Homo sapiens: one gene and its partners. The protein of the gene in region 2 purifies or fractionates together with the protein of the main gene of each other region. This does not show direct contact. Each region holds a gene or a part of one and is shown on either strand. Other genes may lie near its edges.

Region 1 (7,288 bases), on a different chromosome or scaffold from region 2:
TAGTATTAAATAGTGGTGCCTTTAGGAGGCAATTAAGACATGAGGGCTTGGCCAGGTGTGGTAGCTCACGCCTGTAATCCCAGTACTTTGGGAGGCTGAGACAGGTGGATCACCTGAGGTCAGGAGTTCAAGATCAGCCTGGCTAACATGGCAAAACCGCATCTCTACTAAAAATACTAAAATTACTCAGGCGTGGTGGCACACGCCTGTAATCCCAGCTACTAGGGAGGCTGAGGCAGGAGAATTGCTTGAATTTGGCGGGGGTGGGGGCGGCCAGGGATGGCGGTTGCAGTGAACTGAGATTACGACACTGCACTCCAGCCTGGGCAATATAGAGCGAGACTCTGTCTCAAAAGAAAAGAAACAGGCATGAGAGCTCTGCCCTCATGCATGGGATTCGTGTCCTTATAAAAGAGGCTTGAGGGAGCCAGTTGACCCTTCTACCATGTGAGGAAGCAGTGAGAAGATGCCATCTTTGAAGCAGGGAGCAAGCCCTCACCGGACACCAAATCTGCTGGTGCCTTGGTCCTGGATTTCCCAGCCTCCAGAACTGTGAGCAATAAATTTCTATTGTTTATAAATTATCCAGTCTAAGGTATTTTGTTATAGCAGCCCAAGCAGACTAAGACAGTGTTCACAGGTCACACTTTAAGCAACATGGATTTTGATGCTACTAAAGACCACCATTTTCAAATACTTTTTCTTTCTTTTGGACAATTATACAATCATATTGGTTATGCAATGAACAGACTTGATTAGACTAATGTAACACCGACCGCCTGAATATTTGCTCACGGGGGTCTGTATGCTTTATTCTGTGCACACAATCCCGTTTTTCCTTGAGTCTCCTCCATAAAGCAGAGCCCGGGGTAGGCCTCAGGGCTATATGTAGCTAGACTTTCTGGAGTATGACTAAGTGTCTGTACCGGACTAACACAGTAACAACTACTAGGTAACTGCAATTTAATTGCTCAAATCAGAACTAACTTCTAAAACATGTTTCTTCCCTTATAGTCATAGACTAAATTCTAGCCTAACTAGTGACAGATACAAGCTGTAATAATGTGTTATCTGTGTCTTAGCCTCCTAGGTGAAAATTTTTTCTTCCTTTATTTTTATCCCTATGGTTGAAGAAAGTAGCAGAGACCAACTGAATGAAGGTAAAAACCACTGGCTTTCTTAGGAAGAACTGTAGAGCAAAACAAAATTCATTTCTGGAGAGGAATAATTCCTACTTGAACGAATGGAAAAATAAAATCGTAGAATTAAAAAAAATAAACACATTGTAGAATAAAAACAACTTTGGTAATAAATTCAGATCCTAATCGTAAAAATTCATTTTTTAAGTAGCTCAATTATATAAATGACTCACTTATATAACCAAGGAGCTATATCATGGAGCATTTTTAAAGGTTTTTGTTTTTACACTAGGGTAAGCATTTCCCAAGTTTGTCTGTAACATGTGGCTTTTTCAAAATAAAAGAAAATGAGAAAATTCTCCCTACTGTCTCAATTAACGTAATTATGAATTAAGGAAGACCTAATTGATAGGGTTTTACTCTCTAGGTGCATAAATATATGGTGAAATACTCATTAAAATAATTACTAGACAGAAGTGCTCAGCTCCCTGTACCTTCTGAGATCCTCCCACCAGTAAAGGGAGGACGACAGAGTGGTAGCGCTTTCCTGTTAGTGTGCCAAAGAGAGGGGACACTGGTCACCAGGATAATCTAATGAAAATACCTCTGGGCTAATCGTCAAGAGATAGGGATTAAGTTAAGGTTCCAAAATGGTGAATACTATCCCCACCCCTTATGTCCAACCTCATCCCTCCCCGCCGAGCTTTCACTTTTCTCCCGGGAATTGCGGATGTGCAGTCTACTGCAGCAGCCCTGCGGGGAGGAATGGAGGAAGGGAAGGGGACGGCTGCAGGGTGTGTCACTTACGAGATGTAGGCTGGGTAGCCAAATCCTATCAGGTTGCAGAGGAGAGAGGCTCCATAACCGAACACCAGGTACAAGGCCACCAGTCCGATGACACCTGGGGACCACAAGGAGAGAAGTGGGTCGGGCAGCATGAGAGCCGTTCACGCGGGACAGCCGCCGCCCACACCGCGAGGCTGGGCCTGTTGTAGGAGTTTTCCTCTCGACTCGATTAAAGGAGCGAGAAAAACAAACCACACGAAAGCTGGGCCTGCGCGTCCGCTGGGCTATGCCTTGAAGTCTGGGGATACCAGGCAGCCCCACCATTGTGCCTCTCCTACCTCCCGCAGGGGGCCCCGGCGCTTTGCGCAGCAACCCCCGGCGCCCGGGACGGTCCCAGGCACCCGCTTCCGCCCTCTCGCAGGGCCTGCTGGGCAGCGCTCCAGCCTGGGAAGCTGCGCTCAGCGGGGAGCGTCCCGAGAGGCCCGGACTCCCGCACACGCTGCAGTAGCAGCCCCCGCCCACCCGAGAGGCGCCCTCTCCGGGCGGAGCTCCACGGAGGGTCGGGTAGGACCGGGTACCTCCGTCAACGCGCCCGCCCGCAGGGGCCCCGCCGTCCGCGCCCACCGCGCAGGACAGCAGGAATAGGGCGCCGGGCCGCGGGGCAGACATACGTCAGCGCTGGCCCTTCCAGCTGCCAGCGCCCGGCGCCGCAGCTGCCCTCCAGCCCCGCGACCCTCAGCCTGGGCAGCCCCCGCGGGGTCCTCCGATGCCCACGCTTTCCGGGAGGCCAGCCTGATCCCTGAATATGCTGCTTGTCCCGTCTGTCTCCGACTCCACCTTTCCCGAGTCCTCTCCCTGCTTCCTTCCCCAGCAGCTGGGGCAGCGGCGGCTCCCGTGGCCCTACCAGCGGCGGCGACCCCCGGCCACCCACCAAGAGCGATGAAGCTCCTGTTCACGCCGGTTTTGGCCTCGAGCTTGGCCAGAAGGTCAGTCATGCAGTTCTTCTCGTGCAGGAACCGGTCGAACCTCTCCCTCATGGCCGCAGACATGGCGGGGACCGTCTCGCCGCTCGGGGCTGTTCCTAGTGCCGGATAGACTGGAGCGGCGACTGCGGCGGAGCAGCGGCAGGCGGGGACCGCGGCGCGTCTACGCGTCCTCCACTCGCCTCCGCTCGCCCCGCCCGGCCGCCGCGCGCCCCTCCTCGGCCGCCGCGCGCCCCTCCTCCCCCGCCCAGCGCCAGGGGGACAGCGCCACACCCTGGCGGGGGCGGGCCTGCAACTCCGCGGACGCTGCGAGGTGGCCTGCCTGTTGACAGTCTTAACCCATTGCGGGGTAAAAAGGATGTGGCGTGGGGGCGTGCATTTTGTGTCTCTCGTGGGTCCCCTTCTCAAATCGGACTATTGCAAAAAGCAGGCAGAAAGGAGGCAGGCGTCCTTGTTGCTCCCGCCTGCAATTCACTGCGATGAGTTTGGCACCTACATTGCTGTGCTAAACCTAAGGCATTTTTGACCTAAAAAATTGAAATGTTTGAGCATCGTGAAAGAACTCTTTGGAAGCAGTCCTGCTTTCTCCCTCTTTGCCTTAACTTGGCAGTTTTTCTCACCTACAGACAATCGTTGCCTTGTAAAGACCCTTGAAGAAATCTAACACATCCTCCCTGGGGTACACCTTTTCCAAGCAAAAACTGCATTAAATCTTTTCATGGTGGGCTTGCGTTGTCTTGGTGTCTGATACTGTGGCAAGTGTCCAAATTCTCTCTGTGGAGCCAATATACTCTGCACTTCCTACAGTCAAAATACTCTGAAGAAGACGGAGATTCTAAGGTCCAAGCCTTAGGGCAGGAGCTCATTTTTGCTTCCTTCAGAATGAGTTGGCCATGCTCTTCCTCCACCTAAACCTAGGCTCCTCTTATCTCACCCATATGACTTCCAGACACTCCTAAAATTACTCTTGTTGACTCCTATTCTGCACACTGCTGCAGAATTTTTGTCCGAAGCTCCGTATTATTATCCTAACAGACTAGAGCTCCCATTCCTTGGCAGAGCATTCAATGCCCTGCCCACAACTGGCCCCGAACATTCTGTCTTGGTCCTACACAACCCCTCTGTGCTTTCAAATCTACTTAATTACCCTACTGCCTTCCACTTCTGCAAAAAGTTATCTTGCCCACGCCTAGCTTTTTCCTTTTATGCTAATTCTCCTTCCTCCTTTCTTCCTCAGAGCTTCTTAGCTCAGCTTTCTCAGCTGTTCCTACCACCACCCAGCCAAATCAGTGAACAAGTGAAACAACCTGCTGTCTACTTCTGTCTTTTCACCTACAGTTAATTCTCAATGTGGCAGACAGTAGAATCTGTTTTAAAATGTGCGTCAAGTTGTGCTATGTTTTTGTTCTCAACCCTCCAGCAACTTCCTATCTGCCTGAAGGAGGGCATCAGGGTCACAGGTGACATGGTTCATCCCTCCCCTTTCTGATGTCTTCCCTTACTGCCTCCCTCCTTGCTGTGCCTCAGACAAGGTAAGCCCATTCCTGCCTCTGGGCGTTCGTTCACTTTTCTTCTATTTCAGTGGTTCTCAACCAGGAGCACTTCCTCTCCCCTTCTTCCTCCTGGGGGGAGGAGTAGCAATGTCTAGAGATACTTTCGTTGTGAAACAGATTGTCACACAAGGAGAGCAGGAGGTGGCAAGTGCAACTAGCATCTAGTGGTTAGAGACTAGGGGTGCTGCTAAACATCCTGTAACACACAGGACAGCCCCCACAACAAAGAATTATCCAGCCCCAAATGTCAATAATGTGACAGTCCAGAAACCCTCCTCTATCTGAAAGTATCTTTCCCCAGTTAACCATTTAACTGTCCCCTTCCATTATTCAGATATTTGTTCAAATGGTACCCCTAATCTCAAATTGCAACCCCCAGTGGTCTCTAGCTTGATTTTTCTCCATAGAATTTATTACTGTCTGGCATTATGTTCTACTTTTTTTTTTTTTTTTTTGAGACTGTCTCACTCTGTCACGCAGGCTGGAGTACAGAGGCGTGGTCACAGCTCACCGCAGCCTCGACCTCCTGCTGTGCTCAAGCCATCCTCCCACCTCAGCCTCCCAAGTAGCTGGGACCATAGCCGTGTGCCACCATGTCCGGCTAATTTTTTCTGTTTTTAGTATAGATGGGGTTTCACTATGTTACCCAGGCCAGTCTTGAACTCTGTGATCTGCCCACCTTGGCCTCCCAAAGTTCTGGGATTACAGGTATGAGCCACCACCATGCCAGACCATGTTCTATTTTTAAATTATCTTTCTTTCCTCACTAGATTATGAGCTCCGTGAGGGTAGACATTTTTGCTTATTTTATTTGCTTCAATATTTTAAGCACATTGAACAGTGCCTGGCACTTAGTAGTTGTTCAATAACTATTTGTTGAATTAATGAATGAATGAATATCTAACATGTGTTGTACCACCCAGTATTCCAAGTGTTACGTGGACTAGTTCATTTAATCCTCACAGCTGCATGAGGAAGATGCTACCTGTTTCATCCTCATTTAAGGAAAAAAAAAATGAGACATAGTGAGTTCCCATATCACAATAAGTGGCAGAGCTAGAATTCAGAATCAGGCTCTTACCCCTATATTACATTGCTATTATGGGTTGAATTGTATTCTACCTCCCTAAAGAAGACATGTTGGAATCCTAACCTACAGTACCTCAGAGTGTGATCTTATTTGGTAATAGGGTCTTCAAAGAGGTAGTCAAATTCAAATGAACTCCTTAGGGTGGACCTCAATCCAGTGTGACTGTTGTCCTTATAAAATGGGAAATTTGGCCAGGCGCGGTGGCTCACACCTGTAATCCTAGCACTTTGGAGGCCGAGGCAGGTGGATTACGAGGTCAGGAGATCGAGACTATCCTTGCTAACACGGTGAAACCCCATTTCTACTAAAAATACAAAAAATTAGCCGGGCGTGGTGGCGTGCACCTGTTGTCCCAGATACTCAAGAGGCTGAGGCAGGAGAATGGTGTGAACCCAGAAGGCAGAGCTTGCAGTGAGCCGAGATCAAGCCAATGCACTCCGGCCTGGGCAACAGAGCGAGACTCTGTCTCAAAAAAAAAAGGGGGGGTGAAATTTGGACGGAGACAGATGCATATAAAGGGAAGACTGTGAAGAAACACAGGGAGAAGATGGCCATCTACAAGCCAAGAAGAAAGTCCTGGAACAGATCATTCCCTCACAACCCTCACAAGGAACCAATCCTGCTGAGACCTTGATCTTGGACTTCCAGCCTCCAGAGCTGTGAGATAATAAATTTCTGTTTTATTTATTTATTTAGAGACAGGGTCTCACTGGGTCACCCAGGCTGGACTGCAGTGACACAATCTCCACTCACTGCAACCTCCACCTCCCAGGTTCAGGCAATTCTTCCACCTCAGCCTCCCAAGTAGCTGGGGCTACAGGTGTGTGCCACCATGCCAAGCTAATTTTTTTTTTTTTTGTAGAGATGGGGTTTCACCACACTGGCCAAACTGGTCTCAAACTCCTGACCTCAAGTGATCTCCCCATCTTGGCCTCCCAAAGTGCTGGGACTGCAGGCATGAGCCACTGCACCTGGCCTCAATTTCTATTATTTAAGCTACCCAGTTTGTGAGACTGTTACAGCAGCCCTAGGAAACTAGTACAGCTGCTTAGCAGAATAACTGAACTGTAAACTTCAAACCAGTTGTGAGTTTGTATAATTTCCTACTGAGTACAGTATGTATATTAAGTTGGGGTTGTTTTTGAATACTTAAAGTGATTCATAATTTGATTTTTTTTTTTTTTTTGAGATGGAGTCTGCCTCTGTCACCCAGACTGGAGTCCAGTGGCATGATCTTGGCTCACCGCAACCTCAGCCTCCCAGGTTCAAATGATTCTCGTGCATCAGCCTCCTGAGTAACTGGGACTACAGGTGCACACCACCACGCCTGGCTAATTTTTGTATTTTTTTGTAGAGATGGGGTTTCACCATGTTGGCCAGGCTGGTCTTGAACTCCTGACCTCAAGTGATCTGCCTGCCTCAGCCTCCCAAAGTGCTGGGATTACAGGTGGCCACAGTGCCGGTCCTGATTTTTTTTTTTTTTTTTTTTTTTTTTTAGACAAGGTTTGACTGTATCACCCAGGCTGAAGTGCAGTGCACAATGTTGGCTCACTGACCTCCACCTCCTGGGCTTACGCCATCCTCCCACCTCAGCCTTCCAAGTAGCTGGGACTACAGGTGTGCACCACCACACCCAGCTAATTCTTGTACTTTTTTGTAGAGATGGAGTTTTGCCATGTTGCCCAGGCTGGCCTCAAACTTGTGAGCTCAAGTGATCCGCCCATCTCAGCCTCCCAA
Region 2 (7,020 bases):
GATCTCACCTTTGGCTGACCTTTAAGCTCTGCACACACAAACATTGTGCATATCTATATTTACAGATATACATAAAACTATAAATATTTATAGATATAGAGATACATATAAATATATATGTATTTATAGATATAGAGATACATATAAGTATATATGTATCTATATTTATAGATATACATGCACAATGGACTATTATTCACCCATAAAAAGGAATAAAATGTGGATGAACTTTAAAAACATTATGCTAAGTGAAAGAAGCCCAAGGCCAAATATTGTGTGATTCTATTCCATGAAAATCCAGAATAGGTAAATCCATATAGACCGAAAGAAGATTTGTAGTTGTCAGAGGCTAAGGGGAGAGAGAATGGAGAGTGATTTGCTTGTTGGGTATGTAAGGGATTTATTTTTGGGAAAAGTTTTTCAACTAGATAAACATGGTAGTTCACAACGTTTGAAGGTTCTAAACATCATGAAATTGTTTACTTTTAAAGGTTCAAATTTTGAATTGTACCTCAGCTAAGAAAAGGAATAGGAAATAAATATATTGTAGCTCAATATACAGTATTTATACCTACTTTAATTAATGTTTACTGCCATGTACATGATTCCATGTTTACCTACCAAAGCCGCCTTAATTTTTCTAAGGTGTCATTGCAATGATACCCAACACAGTGACAGACATTACAGATAGGGAGACAATAAAATATGAGGTAAAGCTACAATATCTATTAGTTTGGGAAATATACCTGTAAAACAGACAGATAAGCCAAATGAAGACAGTGTCAATAAGTAGAACATAAAATATATAAAATTTTCACGTATGATAAAGGAGGAAATACGAACTAGTAGATTAGAAAAAAATCCTTTTATAATAATTATACATTTATCTGGAAAGTCATAATATATCATCTCATACAATAAAACAAATGTCAAAATGATCAGTTAAGTATCAAAAAGTTAAACTTAAAAGTAAAGAATAGAACTTCATCAGGGTGGAAGTATTGGAGGGTCCCCTGCCAGCAAAGATCACCTATCCACTCTAAGAGGGAGTTAAGACTGGCGGTTTGGGGATAGCACCAAGAGATATCAGCTGTGATGGCTTGGAAAAACAGTGTAAACCGGCAGTGTAAACAAGAGTAGGGCATTTATAAGTAGTTGAGAATGGTGAATAGGAGTATGACTAGACAGAAGATAGTAGGGATGACTAGTTTTTGGGGCTCGGTCCAAGTAGTGGGGGTAACTTCGTAAAGCCCTGTTGCAAAAAGTAGGGTAAGGACAAACAGACCTAATAGAATGAAGGGATCATTCCCATTCTTATGTCACCCTCTACCTCTCCCCAGCTATCTCCACCACACTACCAACGTTACTTATTCTCTCCTAGCCATTTCTAATCTCTCCTTATTGAACAACTGCTGGCTTTGCATTTCCCTTTCTTCCAGCGCCTACACAGCTGCCCCCACCTTACATGTAGACTGGGCAACATCTGTCTCCCTATACCTCTGAACTTCCTTTAACAGCCCTCACCTTTACCCTCCTGAAGAACTCATTTACTTTCTAGACAGGTCCAGCAAGACCTCCCCAGACATTTCATATCAGCAAGCTGCCGCCCTCCTCCACACTTACTTAAAAAACCTTTCTCCTTATATCAACTCTACTCCCCCCATATTTGGACCTCTCACAACACAAACTACTATTCCTATTCCTGTGGCCACTCCTTTATGTATCTCTCGGCAAAGACCCACTGGAATTCCCCTAGTAACCCTTCACCTTCTCCATGTTCCTTTACTCTTCATCTCCAAAGTCCAGCTATGCATGTCACCGAAACAATTGGAGCCTTCCAGCTCCGTATTACAGAAAAGCCCTCTATCAATACTGGCAAACTTAAAAATATTAGCAGTAATTATTGCTTAGGAAGACACTTACCCTGTATTTCACTCCATCCTCGGCTACCTTCCCCTTGCTCATCAGACCCTCCTCCCAGGCCCTCTTCTTGTTTACTTATACCCAGCCCCGAAAATAACAGTGAAAGGTAGCTCATAGACACTCAACATTTTCTCATATACCATGAAAATCGAACCTCCCCCTCTACGCAGTTACCCCACCAGTCCCCATTACAACCTCTGGTGGCTGCCGCCCTAGCTGGATCCCCAGGAGTCTGGGTACAAGACACCCCTTTCAGCACTCCTCATCTTTTTACTTTGCATCTCCAGTTTTGCCTCGCACAAGGTCTCTTCTTCCTCTGTGGATCCTCTACCTCCATGTGTCTACCTGCTAATTGGACAGGTACATGCACACTAGTTTTCCTTACTCCCAAAATTCAATTTGCAAATAGGACCGAAGAGCTCCCTGTTCCCCTCATGACACCAACACGACAAAAAAGAGTTATTCCACTAATTCCCTTGCTTGTTGGTTTAGGACTTTCTGCCTCCACTATTGCTCTCGGTACTGGAATAGGAGGCATTTCAACCTCTGTCACGACCTTCCATAGCCTCTCTAGTGTCTTCTCTGCTAGCATCACAGACATATCACAAACTTTATCAGTCCTCCAGGCCCAAGTTGACTCTTTAGCTGCAGTTATCCTCCAAAACCACCGAGGCCTTGACTTACTCACTGCTGAAAAAGGAGGACTCTGTATATTCTTAAATGAAGAGTGTTGTTTTTACCTAAATCAATCTGGCCTGGTGTATGACAACATAAGAAAACTCAAGGATAGGGTCCAAAAACTTGCCAACCAAGCAAGTAATTATGCTGAACGCCCTTGGACACTCTCTAATTGGATGTACTGGGTCCTCCCAATTCTTAGTCCTTTAATACCTATTTTTCTCCTTCTTTTATTCGGACCTTGTATCTGCCGTTTAGTTTCTCAATTCATCCAAAACCGTATCCAGGCCATCACCAATCATTCTATACAACAAATGCTCCTTCCAACAACCCCACAATATCACCCCTTACCACAAAATCCTCCTGCAAGTTGACCTCTCCCACTCTAGGTTCCCACGCCACACCTAATCCCGCTCGAAGAAGCCCTGAGAAACATCGCCCATTATCTCTCCATGCTACCCCCCGCACCCAAATTTTTTTTTCGCTGCCCCAACACTTCAATACTATTTTATGTTATTTTTCTTATTACTGTAAGAAGGCAGGACTGTCAGGCCTCTGAGCCCAAGCTAAGCCATCGCATCCCCTGTGACCTGAACGTATATACGCCCAGATGGCCTGAAGTAACTGAAGAATCACAAAAGAAGTGAAAATGGCTTGTTCCTGTCTTAACTGATGACATTCCACCATAAAAGAAGTGAAAATGGCCAGTCCTTGCCTTAACTGATGGCATTACCTTGTGAAAGTCCTTCTCCTGGCTCATCGTGGCTCAAAAAGCTCCCCCACTGAGCACCTTGTGACCCCCACTCCTGCCTGCCAGAGAATTACCCTCTTCGACTGTAATTTTCCTTTACCTACCCAAATCCTATAAAACGGCCTCACCCCTATCTCCCCTTCGCTGACTCTTCTTTTCGGACTCAGCCCGCCTGCACCCAGGTGAAATAAACAGCCTTGTTGCTCAAAAAAAAAAAAAAAAAAAAAAAAAGTTAAACATTTAAAAATAGAAGGTAATGTTTTCAAAATTCTGTATGACTGGAATTTCTAAGCTTAAAAGTCTAAGCTTAAAATCATAATGAATAATTTTTAAAATATTGACTTTTATCCAGTCTGTATTTCAGAAAAAGAAGAATAAATAAGTGACAAACAAGAATGGCTATTTACATACTGCTTTTTAATAACAACTAACTTTCCATATTTATATGTATCAACTGGATTTTAAATTCCTGGAGGGCAGAGCCTATTTCTTGTGTTGTTTTACCATTTTCTCCCACTGCAACAAGTTTAAAGATACCTAAATCGAGTTTTGAATGAAAAGTAGACTTATACCAAACTTTTACTTGTTACTTTAATCTATTGCATACCTGTTCAAAAATACTTCACATTTAGAGAGTCCAAAAGATTAAAACTAGGATAAGCCAAAGCCTTGAGACATACCTGTCTGGTCTGCAGATCTCGAAGCACAAAGGTCCTTATTACTTATATTTCTTCTTGTGCCATTATTCACTTTTAGATCTCCAGTGTCCTCATACTGAGTGGCATTTGAACAACTTCCTTTTTGGCATTTTAGCAATACTCCCTGAGAAACTTGAATACAGGACTATTTTAAGGTTAGGTAAATATCTTCTCTATGGAATGTTTCAGGGACACATTCAATGGAATGATTCCGATGATTGGAACAAGAAATAATTGAAACGGTCACTAGGATCTTTTTAAAATTTTCATGTCTACTGATGGAAAGAATTCAAAATATTATACAATCAATTCATTTATACAACACATATTTGGTGAGAATCTATTCTATGCCAGGCATTCCTACGAACTGGTAATACAATAATAAATAAAGCCAAGTTTCTGCTCTGGGAAGTATATAGGCTCTTTTCATCCTTTCTTAATGTTTTTCTGCAGCCTCCAACACTGTAGTCAGAACATTGTACCATAATTACTTAGTACCTGCTTCTCCCACTAGAATATCACATTCCTCACCCTGACTATTCTTTTCTTAAAAATTTTGGGGAATTTGTAATATTTGGAGTATTGTAGCTGCTCGGTGAATATTTGCTGGACAAAAGGAAAAGCAAACTAAATGCAACCTTAGATAAAATGTATTAAAATATTTAAGCAAAACAGTAAAATTTTATCTATTAAAGTATCCAAGAAACACAGAAAAACTGTTTCAAATACCACACATACACACACATACACACACACACACACACACACACACACACACTCTACACATACACTCCTTTCTCCGTATTAGACTGTATGCCACTTGAGGGCAAGATACTTACCTGATTTGACTGCATATTAAATATAGCACTGTGGAGTGTACTAATAGAGCTTTACATGCAGTAGCTTCTAATTCAATCTTGGTTAATGTAGTGAAGAATGAATGAATAATTATAAAAAGATTTATAAGAGACAAGTAAACATCTTTCATATTTTTATTTAATTAAGATCTTCTAAACTTACCCAACAGGATCAAGGAGATCAAAGTCAAAGTGAGAATACCATTCACGGTTCCAGATATTCCCAGTAAGATTTTATACCAGTGCAACGTCACTGAATAATCTGAGACATTAATCACATGAATTAGTTTAGAAAAGTATGCTTCCAGGAAGTAATACAATAGCAATTGTAATAATAGGATTGTATAAAATATTAGTTTTGGTTTCAAAAGATATTAGGCAATCAAAAGCATGAAGGCTAAGTAAATAGAAAAATATATACATTTATTTAACAATGATAACACTCTGGATGGTCAGAAGCTATGATACGTGTCATATCAAATCTGAAGAAATTGCTAATATTTAACATTATTAATTTGTAGAAAGAATTTTACTCTATGCACTGAATAATTTTCCAACCATTGCGGAGACACACGCACTCATGAACATGCACATGCATTTACAGATAATACATGTGTATCCACATAAACACTTTCTGATTAATCATTAATATAACATTTACAAGTCCTTTGAGCCTTTTTTATTTACTAAGGATGAATCAGAACTAAATATGGCTTTAGGTATCCTGCTATTTTAATCAAAAAAACCCTAAAATCCTTTGTAAGTCATGAATAATATTTCATCTTCTTATTAAATGCTAAACTTTTAAGAACTGTTTTATTTTTCATAGACTTACACTGTCAGGTTTAAGATAAGAGTGCTTGTTCAATGATTATTATTCAAGAAACTGCTATCATTGGACAGACAGTAGAGAGTCTCATCCAGAGGATTTAGGTCTGCTGGGCACTGACTTACGAAATTACATGAATAATTATGTTATACTGAATAAGTGAATATCTATACTTTGTGAAACATTTTGTCCTTATCAAAGATAATTTATGTAAATCTATCATAATAATTGATAAGAATCCTCTATTGTAACCGAAATTATTCTTATTGTTCAGTCAATAAATTGAATTATTAATGCTGAAATTTATATTCTAAATACTCTTTAAACCTGAGAAAATAGAGAAACTACATTTGACGCTGTCAAGCCCTGTCAAGAAAGCACATGATGAACCCTATAGAATGATATTTTAGATAAATAGTTCGCAGGGTTTCTCTTATCATAACATTGTCAAAGATATTAAAATAATTTTATCAGAATTCATTTAATGAATACTCCACATTTCTGAGATTATTTTTGAATTTTTGATATATTAATATTGATAAGCAATAAATTCCAAGAAATCAAGCATGTGTCTTAAAAAAGTCATATATTTATTTTAAAACTTAAAAAATAATTATCAGAAAACATTAGGAAAAAAAGTTGTGGAAGGTGGTTGAAATTCAACTCAGACTGAATTATTTCTCCTAAGCACTACAGGTTGTAGTGAGCTGAGATCGCGCCACTGCACTCCAGCCTGGGCGACAGAGCGAGACTCCATCTCAAAAAAATAATAATAAAATAAAAATAAAAGTAAAAAAAAATTTTAAAAGATGCTGAATAATGGAGAAAGTAAAACTTTCATTATCCTGTGTTTTCTCCTATAAGGAAATGGTTTAATTTAACTTATAAAGGTTAAAACACAAGCCTTTTAACCACCCAAAACCAGAAATAATAAAATGGAAAACCAAAATCAGTCTTATGAATGTCTGTACAAAAATGGTAAATACATTATCAGCAACCAAAATATATTATAACCATGATTGGTTTATTCTAGGAATATAAAGATTATTCAATAGGAGGAAATCCATATTAATATTATATTAATAAAGCTAAGGAAAAAAATCTATCATCATCTCAATAGATGTAAAAAATGAAATTGATAAAATCTTATATCTTTATGTTAAAAAACAGAAATTAATAGATACTTGTTCAACATAATAGTTTTATGTCTAATGAAGCTAACATCTTATTCAATTGAGAAAACTGAAAGAAGGTTTTCTGCTTAAGTCCAGAAAAAGAAAGATA
Region 3 (7,830 bases), on a different chromosome or scaffold from region 2:
GTAGCTGGGATTATAAGCACCCGCCAAGGTGCCTGGCTAATTTTTGTATTTTTAGTAGATACAGGGTTTCACTTGGCCAGGCTGGTCTCGAACTCCTGACCTTAGGTGATCCACCCGCCTCAGCCTCCCAAAGTGCTGGGATTACAGGTGTGAGCCACTGCGCCTGGCCGGGGTATGTACTTTCAACATAGATCGCTTGGGGTGACATTCTCTGTGCCTCAGTTTCCTCCTCTGTAAGGGGAGATAATAGTACTTTTCTTAGAGGGTTGTTGTGAGGATTAAATGAGGTAATACATGGATTGCTTATGACCAAGCCGAGGAAATGTTTGACATGCATTAGTATTTTGTAGATTGTTCCCCGAATTTGTCCAATAATTGATTTAGCCCAGTGGTCCCCAAACTGTTCCATGATAGGAGTCGTCGGAGTGGCCAGGCGTGGTGGCTCACACCTGTAATCCTGGCACTTTGGGAGGCCAAGGTGGGTGGATCACTTGAGGTCAGGAGTTCAAGACCAGCTTGGCCAACATGGAGAAACCTGTTCTCTACTAAAAATACTGTAATCCCAGCTCCTCGGGGGGCTGAGGCAAGAGAATCTCTTGAACCTGGGAGGCGGAGGGTGCAGTGAGCCGAGATTGCGCCACTGCACTCCAGCCTGGGCGACAGAGTGAGACTCTGTCTCAAAAAAAAAAAAAAATCACCTGAGGAGGGCTCTTCCTAGAAAAATCGGACTCAGTGGGTCTGTATGGAGGCCCAGAAATCCTGTTTTTAATCAGCACTCCAGGCCGGGAGCGGTGGCTCACGCCTGTAATCCCAGCACTTTGGGAGGCCGAGGCAGGCAGATCACCTGAGGTTGGGAGTTTGAGACCAGTCTGACCAACATGCAGAAACCCCGTCTCTACTAAAAATACAAAAAAATTAGCCAGGCGTGGTGGCACATGCTTGTAATCCCAGCTACTCAGGAGGCTGAAGCAGGAGAATCGCTTGAACCCAGGAGGCGGAGGTTGTGGTGGGCGAGATCGTGCCACTGCACTCCAGCCTGGGCAACAAGAGCGAAACTCCATCTCCCAAAAAAAAATAAAAAATAAAATAAGCACTCCAGGCATTTCTTATCCTCAGGGAAGCTTAGAGAGTACCGTGTATCATACTCTGTGAAACCCATGGAAGCTCACATTGGCTCCCACCTCTCCACACACACTCCTGCTCCCAGACTGCACTTAAAAACACCTGCGCCTGGAGGTAGCAGCCGCCTGAGCTACAGAGGAGGGCTTGAGAAGAGGGGAGAAGTGGAGACTCAGGGGACCTGGTGGCAGAGAGTTTCAAGCTGGAAAGTCAAGCCTGGCTCAGTCCACACAGACCTGCTGCTCTGTGGATTTGAGCAAGTTAATGAACCTCTTGGGGCTGATCCCCCACCTAGGGGCTGCTGTGAGGGCGCAGTGAGATCTCGAGGCCCACACATAGGAGCTGATTTTAATAGAGGAGGGAAGTCTGATCCTACACAGATTCCTGAGGAAAGGGAGACAGCAGGGGGTGGAGAAGGGCTGGAAGGGGGTAGTGGGAGTCCAAGTTTTTGGCACCAAATCAAAGGCACCTGGGGGGTGGTGGGGCTGGGAGCCGGGGGCCAGCTGGCCTGTCTGTCTCCCTGACCTCTCCCTGTTGCCACAGACCTTGTGGCCTGAGGCTGGACTATAGGTGTTTCCAGTGGCTGTCCAAGTTCATGAAGGTGTTAGTGTTTATTGGTGAACTTGAGGATGTTTGCATCCTTGGGGGTTGTTTCTGCTATGGGAGAAAGGGGATTTGTCCACCTGGTTCAGGTGGGAATCTGAGCCCAATGGGTGACCCTTCCGAAGAAAACTCAGATGGTCCTCCTCTCCCAGCACTCCCAGCCTTGCACTCTCTTCCCCTCCACTGTAGGGGTGGGGTCCCCCGGTTGGAGAAAAGCCTGGGGGCTAGCTGGGTGCTGCCCCCAGCTCCTCACTGCGTCCTCCCACTGAATCCCGAGAGGCATGCGCTATAAACCCACTTTACAGAGGGGAAAATGAAGCCTGAGGCCACGGAGCAGTGATGCGCAGGGCAGGGGTTCAAGTCTCATGAGGCTGGTAAGCCTGTCTGCTCCTGTGTCTTCCAGGGTCTCCTGGACCAAAGCCCCAGCCCCACCTACCCCTGCGGCCCCCGCCCTTGGGAAGTGAGGGAACAGTGTGGGAATGGAGGCAGCCCACCGGAAGACCTGGTTCCTCCGGCTAGAGTGAGTGAGTGAGTGTGTGTGTGTGTGTGTGCGCGCGCGCGGGCGCGCCGCCCTTGTTGAGAGACTAAGGAAGTAGTTTGCCCTCTCTTAACCTCTGTTGGCCGCTCTGTAAACTGCGGGCACACTCTGGCCTTCTCAGGTGGTGGTGAGGCTTCCCTGAGCTCTCGCCTGCGAAGTGGTCAGCACGTCCCCGGCAAGGTTCCAAGTGTCCTTGTTTTGTGCATCACAGGGAGGGCAAAGCTCACCTCACGCGAAGCGCCATGAACATCACTTTTACATGGAAGCCCAGCACCCCTGGGTTCTCCCTAAGCCCCTCCTAAGCCCGCCCACTTCCCGCCACTTTCAGGCTGCAGCCTCCGATGGCCCTCGTTTCTGCTCTTTCTACCGCGTGATAGCGGCGCGAAGCCCACCCAGCCCTGGGGGCGGAGGCCCGGTCTCCCCGCCATGGCAGTAAACCCCACTCTGCCAGCACACTGGCGGGTGTGGAGGGAGGGAGAGCGGCTGATCCCCTGGTCCCTAGATGGTGCACACGCCAGGAAGGGCGGTAGGGATACGGCACAGGTGTGAGGGTGCAGACGCTCCCCACTACCCTTTCCACCCCTCCCCCGCGCCCTCCGCTGCCTCCCTCACCCGGGCACGGCTGTCGCAGCAACTGGACAACGGTGACATTGGTGAGGACGATGTCGCGCTTCGACATGGCCTCTTATAAGGTTATCATTGGCCTGGACCTGCTGTGATGTTACCGAGGTGCGTGCGGAGCGCCAGGGCTGTGGGTCCTGGGCTAATTGCCCTGATGTCACAGCACCCAGTGACGTCACAGTACCCAGTGACGTCGCCGAGGGGCGGCGCCCAAGCCAGAGGCCTGACACCATCGCATCCCATCCCCGTAGAGGCATGGGACGTCAGCACGCTATGCATCACCGTTCCACGGCCACGCACTGCCGTCTGGAATGGAATCCCACTTTTTAAAATTATCATTTGTTTATTTATTTTGAGACGGGGTGTCACTCTTTCTCCTAGGCTGGAGTGCAGTGGTGCAATCATGGCTCACTGCAGCCTTGAACTCCTGGGCTCAAGCGATCCTCCCGCCTCGGCCTCCTGAGTAGCTGGGACTACATGTGCAGCCACCACTGCAGGCTATTTTTACTTTTTATTTTTTTGTAGAGAGAGGGTCTCACTCTTTTGCTCAGGCTGGTCTAGAACCCTTGGGCTCAAGCGATCCTCCCACCTCGGCCTTCCAAAATGCTGGGATTACAGGAGCGAGCCACCACACCCAGCCTGGAATCCCACCTTTTACACTGTTCCTGAAAGCCCTTTCCTCTTCTCTGTCTCTTGAAGCACACAGGTTCCATGCTGTCCCTTGGATTCTCCAGTGGAGTGACTCTTGCTGCCTCCGTATGCCTGGAAGGCCCACCCAGGGCTTCCCTTGGCTGCCTCTTGGTTTCCCACCCTTTAAGAGAGGCTTTCTACACTCTGCATCTAAGTTCCCTCCTTTCTCTGTCACTGTCAGCCGTCACCCCCTTCCCAATTTCTGCCCATCTTCCAGGAAGCCTTGTCTGACTTCTCCATTCTGAGTTATGCTTCAGTGTGCAAAATTTCTCTAGGGCTACACTGTCTATGTTTTTATTTTCCTTAGAGCACATGTCTCTCTAAAAATTGTTTGTTTTCTTGCCAACTGTCTCTGTCCACCAGACTGTAAGCTCTGAGAGGACAGGGACGTCATCTATGTCACTTCTGTATCCCATTGACAAGAAAAGTGTTTGGCACCTGAAAGGTGTTTGTGGGCTGGACGCAGTGGCTCATGCCTGTAATCCCAACACTTTGGGAGGCTGAGGTGGGAGGATCATTTGAGTCCAGGAGTTTGAGACCAACATGGGCAATGTGGCAAAACCCTGTATCTACAAAAAATAAAAAAAGTAGCCAGGTGTGGTGGTGCATGCCTGTTGTCCCAATTATTAGGGAGGCTGAGGTGGGAGGATCACTTGAGCCTAGGAGGTCAAGGCTGCAGTGAGCTGTGATTGTGTCACTGCACTCCAGCTGGGAGACAGAGCAAGACCCTGTCTGAAAAAGGCGTTAGCCCAATAAACTATACCTGAATGAATAAATGTCAATTCCTCAGGTTTCATCTGATCGCTAATCTTTTCTTTTCTTTTCTTTTTTTTGAGACAGAGTTTCGCTCTTGTTGCCTAGGCTGGAGTGCAATGGTGCGATCTCAGCTCACCGCAACCTCCGCCTCCTGGGTTCAAGTGATTCTCCCGCCTCAGCCTCCTGAGTAGCTGGGACTACAGGCGTGCGCCACTACACCTAGCTAATTTTTTTTTTGTTTTTGTATTTTTAGTAGAGACGGGGTTTCACCATGTTGGCCAGGCTGATCTCAAACTCCTGACCTCAGGTGATCCATCTGCCTCGGCCTCCCAAAGTGGTGGGATTACAGGCGTGAACCACCTCGCCCGGCCCTGATCGCCAATCTTATCAAACTCTTCACGTTATATCTTCTCGCAGCACCCATTCTTTTCCTTGTAGCTTTTCATGTAGTTTGTCATGATCTACTGATTGGTTTATTTGTTCGATGTCTCCCCCTTGGGCTCTAAGCCCCTCACAGGGCTCCTGTTCTTGTTTGTTTGTTCACGACTGTGCCTCCAGCACTTAGAACAATACAAAGCAGGTTTTCAATGAACGTCTGACAAAGAACAAGTGGACAAACAGCTCCCTCCCCTGCAGCCCCGGGGTAGGGGTTTGCTTGCACCTCAGTGACTCACAGGCAGGCACCATCACCTGCACAGCAGGTTGACACGCAGCTGTGACCAAGGTTCAGGGGGAGTGGGGGTTTGTGCCAGGAAGGAGTCACCATCCCAGAGAGGGATGGATGCAAGAAGGGGCAGAATGACATAACCTCTTCCTTCCGCCAACATCCATGAGAAATTCATTTGCCAAGCACCTGCCATGGGACCAGGGCAGGGTGAGGCTCTCCTGCTTTGATGGCCTGGGAGAAGAAAGTAAACTAAGTGTACAGGTGAGGAGGTTTTAACGAACCGAGACCAAAACACAGATGATTAATTAAACAAAGGGAGCTACATTTTGGTGTACAATCAAGGAGGTGAAAAATATAACCTCAACAAAACCAGGATTCAAAAGGGGCTGATTTTGGCTGGGTGCAGTGGCTCACACATGTAATCCCAGCACTTTGGGAGGCCGAGGCAGGTAGACCACCTGAGGTCAGGAGTTTGAGACCAGCCTGGCCAACATGGTGAAACTCCATCTCTACTAAAAATACAAAAATTAGCCAGGTGTAGTGGCATGCATCTGTAATCCTAGCTACTCGGGAGGCTGAGGCAGGCGAATCACTTGAACCTGGGAGGCGGAGGTTGCAGTGAGCCGAGATTGCCACTGCACTCCAACCTGGGCAACAGAGTGATACTTCATAAAAAAAATAAATAAAATAAAGAAAGGACAACTCCAGGCCATTCTCAGTTATGGAGCCAGATGCTGAAGTCCTGAATCGAATCGTGCCACATGGGAATAGAGAGACAGAGGAGAGGGACTGAGGCTGGCAGAAGATGAAAGGATGGGGTGGAGAGGGATAGAGAAGATGGAACACAGTTCAGGCCAGGCACAGTGGCTCACGCCTGTAATCCCTGCCCTTGGGGAGGCCGAGGTGGGCGGATCACCTGAGGTCAGGGGTTCGAGACCAGCCTGGCCAACATGGTGAAACCCCGTCTCTACTGAAAGTACAAAAATTAGCTGGGCATCATGGCAGGTGCCCGGCTAATCCCAGCTACTCGGGAGGCTGAGGCAGAAGAATCACTTGAACCCGGGAGGCGGAGGTTGCAGTGAGCCGAGATCATGCCACTGCATGCCAGCCTGGGGGATAGAGTGAGACTCTCCCTCCAAAAACACAAAAAGAAGATGGAACACAGTTCAAAGTGGGAGAAATCCCACCTCTTGATCTCTGGGTGGGTTAGGATTCTGACACTCATCACCCACTCTTCTCTGCCCAGCCACCTCCTGGTATGGGAAACTCCATCATTTCGGCCCTGGACCAGGGCAGAAAAACCACACCTGAGTTTGCCCAGGAATTTGGCTTTGTCCCTGGAGTGTGAAACCGGGAAACAGATTTGATGAGCTCAAGCTTGGAGAGGTGGCACACTTAGTCACCCTCTATAGGCAGAGCCCAGAGAAGGCAGAAGCTTCTGGATATCTGTCCTGGGATGCCTGTCTTTGGGTGGAGTCAAGTGTCCAGGAGCTGGAGAGGAACCCCGGGTCCTCTGAGGGGAGTGGGCCTTGGCGCCTTTGTTTGAGCAAAGCCTGAAAACACGTGCAGATTCTCGCCACACCTGGGCACCCACACACATAGCTCTGCCACCTCCAGCTGCTCACACCCTGCACATTGTTCCTGCCTGGCCTTCCCACCAGCAATCCCACCTCCACCCCTCTCTCAGTCTCTCCCCTTGGCACCAAAACCCAAATATCTTTCACCCCTGCACCTACTGTACCCACCCACTGGCTCTCGTTCTGGTCTTAGCCTCCCTCCCAACTGGCTTCTAGATGCATCTGCTGCCCCAAGCCTGCCCACCACCACCTGCCCTTCCTTCCGATGCCCTTTTCATGCCTGAGGCCAGACTCTCAGCTGTTTCCCCTCCAACCCGAGCCAATATGTCAACACTTGGGGCTTCAGGTTGGGGCTTAGGAGGCCCCATGTCGGGAGGGCAGGAAGGATGAGGGCCTGGCCCCAGCCCAGGTTCTGGCTCACAGGCTCCTGCTGCCCTGGGTCTTCGGCCCCTCCCCGTGGCTGCCTCAACCGGCTTTTCAGGAGACACTGCGTCCTGTTCCAGCTCGTGGCAATCAGCCCCCTGCCCTTGCCCAAGGGCTGGGAGGCAGGAGGTCTGGGTTCTGCGACAGGAATGGGATCCTGCCTCCAAAATCTGCGGCACTCCACAAGGGACTCTATGCTGCCCTGGCGACCCAGGCGCCCTTCCCTCCAGCACCCTGTGAGACCCAGACTCGGGCTCGGAGTCTCTTTCCTTGGCCTGTTCGAATCCATCCATTTGTCCAGTCAATAAATATTTACTGAACCCCAGGCAGTGTTCAAGAAGCTAGGAATACAGCAGTGATCAACACGACCAATTTACATTGCTAGTAGGTGAGACAGGCAATAAAAAATAAAGGTAATTTCAGATTTTTTTTTTCTGTGAAAACAAAAGGGTGATACTACAGAGTATAATTAATGCCATGTTATGGTCAGGAGAGGTTTTCTTGCGAAGTTGGCATTTAAGTCAAGTACGGATGAGGAGGAGCCAGCCACGTGAAGATCTGGGTTCTGCATTCCAGGCAGAGAGAGGAGCATGTGCAAAGGCCCTGCAGCAGGAATGAGCTTGGTGTGTTTGTGGAACAGGGAGAAGGCCTGTGTGGCTGGAATGGAATGAGTGAGGGCAGGGGCTGGCCCACAAGAACGAGGTCTGATGACTCCTTCATCCCACCTAGTGTTCTCCCCTCTCCAGACGGTGCCTCCCATCATTCTAGCCCCTCACTGCCTGGGGAGCTGGAGGCTTAGATGCCTGAGAGGAGTGAGGTGTTGAAGAATTGCCTGC

Evidence for each region.
Region 1: the proteins of KLRF1 (region 2) and REEP5 purify together in Homo sapiens (affinity purification with mass spectrometry; 3 studies listed by BioGRID and IntAct, with this or other methods). This does not show direct contact.
Region 3: the proteins of KLRF1 (region 2) and GAPDHS purify together in Homo sapiens (affinity purification with mass spectrometry; 3 studies listed by BioGRID and IntAct, with this or other methods). This does not show direct contact.

The regions. Positions count from the first base shown.
Region 1 is NC_000005.10:112,919,217-112,926,504, forward strand, and holds the start of REEP5 (receptor expression-enhancing protein 5), read right to left. Parts: upstream 3,012-7,288; 5' UTR 2,975-3,011; coding exon 2,857-2,974; intron 2,041-2,856; coding exon 1,947-2,040; intron 1-1,946. UniProt on the Homo sapiens protein: Plays an essential role in heart function and development by regulating the organization and function of the sarcoplasmic reticulum in cardiomyocytes.
Region 2 is NC_000012.12:9,830,465-9,837,484, reverse strand, and holds part of KLRF1 (killer cell lectin-like receptor subfamily F member 1), read right to left. Parts: intron 5,170-7,020; coding exon 5,071-5,169; intron 4,224-5,070; coding exon of another isoform or gene 4,207-4,223; exon of another isoform or gene 4,196-4,206; coding exon of another isoform or gene 4,183-4,195; coding exon 4,033-4,182; intron 1-4,032. UniProt on the Homo sapiens protein: Functions as an activating receptor involved in immunosurveillance upon binding to various ligands displayed at the surface of myeloid cells.
Region 3 is NC_000019.10:35,528,637-35,536,466, reverse strand, and holds the start of GAPDHS (glyceraldehyde-3-phosphate dehydrogenase, testis-specific), read right to left. Parts: upstream 3,012-7,830; 5' UTR 2,940-3,011; coding exon 2,873-2,939; intron 1-2,872. UniProt on the Homo sapiens protein: May play an important role in regulating the switch between different pathways for energy production during spermiogenesis and in the spermatozoon. Required for sperm motility and male fertility.